Regions from separate parts of the Homo sapiens genome. Here region 2 is linked to region 1. The links come from fine-mapping of genetic effects on gene expression. Tissue or cell type: whole blood. Region 1 holds a variant in brackets; the other region holds the start of a gene. All regions are shown on one strand. Distances are from middle to middle.

The links. PIP is the estimated chance that this variant, and not a neighbour inherited with it, causes the effect.
Region 2: PRMT7 starts here. The variant in region 1 is fine-mapped to the expression of PRMT7 in whole blood (TOPMed, PIP above 0.99).

Annotation. Positions count from the first base shown.
Region 1 is chr16:68,395,100-68,397,779 of GRCh38, reverse strand. All of the region lies in intron 1 of SMPD3 (sphingomyelin phosphodiesterase 3), which reads left to right. Among named protein-coding and RNA genes, the nearest start is that of SMPD3, 52 kb to the left of the region's middle. The variant C/T (reference allele first, on the strand shown) is at 1,480.
Region 2 is chr16:68,309,741-68,312,420 of GRCh38, reverse strand. It overlaps PRMT7 (protein arginine methyltransferase 7), which reads right to left and starts at 1,402. Exons shown (of 19, transcript NM_019023.5): 1 at 1,322-1,402; 2 at 245-379. SLC7A6OS (solute carrier family 7 member 6 opposite strand) reads left to right here and starts at 1,475. Exons shown (of 5, transcript NM_032178.3): 1 at 1,475-1,686; 2 at 1,808-2,086. The coding sequence starts at 1,495. RefSeq lists an enhancer at 1,506-2,470.

The sequences.
Region 1 (2,680 bases):
CCCCCCGCCCCCGCAAAAGGCCAGAAGATGAGGAGGAGCTGACCAAGCAAGGCGTGGAATTCCAGGCTAGGGAAAGGCCCTCCCGGAGAGAGAACGGGACCAAGAAGGAAAGAGGAGAGCTCTAAGGACAGGATTGGCAAGAAGTGCGACAGGAGAGGAGGCAGATGTGGGGCATGGATTTTATCCTGGGGGCCATGAAAGAGTTCTCAGCGGGGAGGGTACCCAGGTGTGTACCTAGAAAGATCACTCTGGCTTCTGTATGGAGAACAAATGGAGGGCGCAAGGCTGAAGGACACCAGGGAGAGACAATGGGCTTGACCGGGGTGTTCCCCATCATCCCTCAGCCCCACAGCAGAACTCTACCTGGTTCCTGCTGGGTTTATACCTCCCAATCCCCACCAGCTCTCTGACCATTCAGATATCCAGGACAACAGTTGATGGATGAATTCACACTCCAGTGTTAAGAACAAATCATGGCAGCATCCACCTTGAATCCCTCTGGGACAGAGGAGGAGGCAGGTAAGAGGGAAGGGTGGTGGCTAGCAAGACTTCCCAACCCCTGGGGTGTTCCTCCCTTACCTATGGGTGCCTCCTGTGTATTAGAGAGCCCCATCGGTCAAAATGCTAACCAGGATGGGGCTGCAGATAAGTCTTGCTCACAGAATCTGTGCCACCCTCTGCTGTGTGACTGAGCAAGTCACTTATGCCCCTCCAAGCCTCAGTTTTCATCTCTGAGTACGGGATCAATAATACCTACCCTCCCCAGGCTGCTTAGGGGATGAAACAAGACGTTGTGCAGGGAATGCTCTGAACACAGTGCCTGGCACACAGTGGGTACCCCAAAACATTTTTTATATAATCATGTTGATGAAGATGATGATTCCAGTAAGCTATAGGCACTCACAACACACACGTGAGTTCACACAGCTTTTAAATTTCAAGTCTCCATCTTGCATTTTCGTTTTGTTTTCTTTTGTTTTACCACAAAGTAGCCTCATTGAGGCAATAATTCAAACAATTGGGAGCAGTTTCTCACAGCTCCTGCTGTGCCCCCTGGTGTGTACAAAGGGAATCGAACCTTCTGGTGATGGACATGCCCGCCTGGCTAGAAATCACTTTATTGATTCCACCGAGGTTCCTGGAATGCCTGTCAGGGACTGGGCCCTGTGCTTGGAGCTCAGGGGGCTCTACGCTGCCAGTACAAAGCCCCAGGGTGTGAGACTGAGGGGAGGGGGTTGGAAGCTTTAGAGCTGAGCCTTGGAGGAGGGGTGTCAGGTGGACCACCAGGGTGTTCCAGACACAGGGTACAGCATGTGCAAAGGCATGGAGGCGTGAAAGAGCATGGTATGTCCCAGGAACAGTGAAAGCTAGAGGTCGGGGCCATCACATCAAATCAGTGGGAGAAAGAGGGGCAGAAACGAGACTGAGGAGGGCAGGGCCTGGTCACTGGGGTCCTCAAGCCAGGCCAGGTAGAAGGAT[C/T]GATCCTGGGGGTAGAGGGAGATCTGGAGATGCTGGACAAGGGCAGAATGAGCTCAGAGCTGCTGCTGGTGGGGATCACAGGCTTCAGCCCAATTAGGAGGGAAGGGGCTCAAAGCAGGCAAGACAGGAGGAGGCCCTGGTGGCGGTGACAGCCACGGAGGGGTTGGGAGTAGGGACTAGAAATGGACTCAAGAACTAGGAGTAATTGGCCTTGACTCTGGACAGGACACTTGGGGCTAAGGGAGGGGCCAAGGACAGAGTAGACAACTAGGGGCTACACCCGCTGAGGCTGGAAGGGCAGGGCTGGGCCGCCCAGGCCAGGCACACTGAGTTGAGGCACCCCTGGGACAGGACTCTGCTCCCTGCCTTCCCTCAACAACTTTCAGTCTGTTTTTCTCTCTTCTTTAACTGCCACAATAGGAAACCAAGATCTTTTTTATTGTTTGATATATTCCTCATTTTTAATTTAAAAAAAAGAGTAAGTGAAATGTTTTCTATTTCCTTCTCAAACAGAAAAGCAACATTACCTATACACATAGTCTCTCATGTATAGGAATGTCTAGATTTTACTTTTCCCTTGATGTATTTTTTTAAGACAGTTTAGGCACCGGGATGAAATTTAGAGCTGTCTGTCACCTTGGTGCTCAGCTAGCTGCCACTCAGGGTCACCCCTTAAGTGGGCCCAGGCTAGGGCGGCCACAGGCCTGAGCTCACCTGCCCCGTCTCAGGCTCATTGCTCAATGGCTTGAGGTGAACTGGGACATGACGGCTATGGGACTGAGATCTTCCCTCAAAGCCAGAGGGCACGCTTTAAACCCTGGAGATGATGACGTTTTGATAAAGTTTAAAAAAACTATTTCACTCTGCAAGACAAACAGCTAATAAAATAGAATCTTTTTTGGTAACCACCCATACACCAATCAATCTGTCACTCGAAAAACTAGTTCCCAAGAAGTGTGAAATGAGGCCACTCTGGAGTTCTGTGGGAACAGAGAGCCCCTGAAAAGCCTTCCTCTCGACCAGATTACAGTTGCCACCCAACAAAGGGAAAATCTCTGATTCTGAGCACAGGAAATACACAGCTAATTAGTTGCTCAATCAATACTGACTTTTGGAAGGTGAGCCATGAGGCTGGGGGTCACTGTTACACTGTTTATGTGCCCCCAGTCCACACTATCACCTATAATCCTGCCTCTTTTTT
Region 2 (2,680 bases), 85 kb after region 1:
TACAAAAAATTTTTAAAAAAATTAGCCGGGCGCGGTGGCCTGTGCCTGTAGTCCCAGTTACTCCCAGCTACTCGGGAGGCTGAGGTAGGGGAATCACTTGAGCCCGGGAGGCAGAGGTTGCAGTGAGCAGAGATGGCGCCACTGAACTCCAGCCTGGGTGACAGAGTGAGACCCTGTCTTAAAAAAAAAAATATATATATATATATATATATATAAATATACATATATTAAAATTAAAAATTACCCGAGTGTAGTGGCGCGTGCCTGTAGTCCCAGCTACTCGGTAGGCCGAGGTGAGGATCGCTTGAGCCCAGGAGGTCAAGGCTGCAGTGCGCCTCGATCACACCACTGCACTCAGCCTAGGCAGCAGAGTGAGACTCTGTCTCGAAAAAATAAAATAACAAAATTTATTAAATACCTTCTATGTGCCAGGCACTATATTAGGGACTGGAGCCACCACCACAAGCTAGAGAAGACCCTTGCCCTCCAAGAGCTTAGACTCTAATGAGAGAGTAATACAAATTACAGACTACATGAATGCAAGAAATACACAGAGCGTTGTAGAAAGAGAAAACCAAGGTTACAGAAGGACTCTGAGGAAACTAGCATTTGAGATCTACAAGACAGACCGGGATAAAAGTTGGGGAAGAGTTTTTACAGGTCAGGAATCCTTACCCCAACTTTCCCAAGAAAAGGCCCTAAGGTAGAAAGAACTAGGTTGCATAAGCAAAATGTGCCAAAAGCCTGAGCGACCGAAGCACTTTTGCAGAAGCCCCCCGCTCCTCATCTCCTATCACATCTTCTGCTCAATCAAGCTGGGCCTTGTCGACTTCGGAAAGGCGTTTGGATTTTGTTCTAAAAGCACTGGGAGCCACTCAAGAGTTTTAAGCAGAAGCGTATCTACACTAGGCTTACGCTTTTACAGGACCACTCTGGTTGGCGTGTAGTGAATACACGACTCTCCAATTACTCAGAACAGTGAGTGGCAAAGACAACAGGTCTGGCAATCAGAGAACTCGTGGCCCAGTTAGGGGTGCGATGGTTGGAGCTACTGCGGTCTCTGTGGCTGAGGGGAGGCGCCAGGCACGAGTACTGCGACAGAGCCCCGCGAGTGGCAGGCACCCGGCTGCACTGCAGAGCCGGGGCCAGCCTAGAACCCCGCTCTCCTGCAGGCCCGGGTGTCCCGAGCTGCCCCACGCGGAGGAGTCCAAGTAGGCCCACGCTAGGCTCCTCTGCCGAAACCCTGGTGCCAAGGACACCATGCTCGCTGCACACAGAACCCCAAAGCGACCCCACCTTCCCAGCATACCCAGCGCCTCACCCGCCGCGGGAAACCCTCCGCTCGCCTCCGCTGCTACCACTTTTACCGCGGCCAGCACGCGGGGCGGGACCTCGCAGCGTCGAGGAGCGTGCTGGGGGGCGGGTCCTAAAGCAGAACTGGAAAGCTATCCCATCACACCCCGCGAGCTCCCACAGTGCTCAGCGGCAGCCACTATGGAGGCCGCCAGGACCGCTGTACTCCGGGTGAAGCGGAAGCGCAGTGCGGAGCCGGCGGAGGCTCTTGTGCTCGCTTGTAAACGCCTCCGGAGCGACGCGGTCGAGTCAGCGGCACAGAAGACGTCGGAGGGTTTGGAGAGAGCGGCGGAGAATAATGTCTTCCACTTGGTGGCCACTGTGTGCTCCCAGGTATTGGGCGTGGTGCAGCTGGTGTGGAGGGCATCTTCGGGTGCAGCCGGTACGAAACCCGATCCCTGACCCGCTCGCGAACTCCTGCTTACGCTGGCCTCCGTCCCCTGTTGCCCCCTAGGAGGAACCAGTCCAGCCTCTCCTGCGGGAAGTTCTGCGCCCGTCACGGGACAGCCAGCAGCGTGTCCGCCGTAATCTCCGCGCCTCGGCTCGGGAGGTCCGGCAGGAGGGCCGCTACCGGGTGCTTTCCAGCCGCCGATCCTTGGGGACCACCTCGAGCGGCCAGGAGTCCGAGTACACGCCGGGGAACCCAGAAGCCGCCGGGAACTCGGGCTTTCAGTTGTTAGACCTTGTCCACGAGGAGGGAGAACCTGAAGCCGCCTCTGCAGGCTCCTGCAAAGTGAGTATGCCCCTGAAGGTGGTCGCTGGGCTTCTCAGGATGGTAATGCAAGAAGACTGGGCCCAGTCGCAGCACAGTTTCATCTTAAGGGGATGGATGATCCATCCGGCGTGACGGCCTCATTTTACAGATTTGGTTGTTCATCCAACATGTGTTTACTACGTGCCTACGATATGCCAGGTATTTTTTTAGATTCTGTGGATACAGCAGTGAGGACCTAACATGCAGGTAGACAGAAACAGTAAACAAGTCTATTCAGTGTCAGATGATGATAAGGGATGTAAGGAGGCGGGGAGACAAAGCAGGAAGAGTGGTGCCACTTCAGTGAGAGTGTCACTGAGGAAATGACATTTGAGTGAAGACTTGCAGAAGGTGAATGGCAGGGTATTCCACATATCGAGAGGACTTCTAGGCAGAGAACCTGAAAGTAAAGAGGCCCTTAAGCCGTTTCTTTGCTCCTTGCAAGGTGCCTGGAGCCCGGTGAGCTAGAGGAGAGCAGTAAGGAATTTGAGGGGAGGATGCCTGCTAGGTACTTGCAAGGACATTGCCTTTCACCCTGACTGAGATGGGGATCACTGGAGCAAAATAGAGATA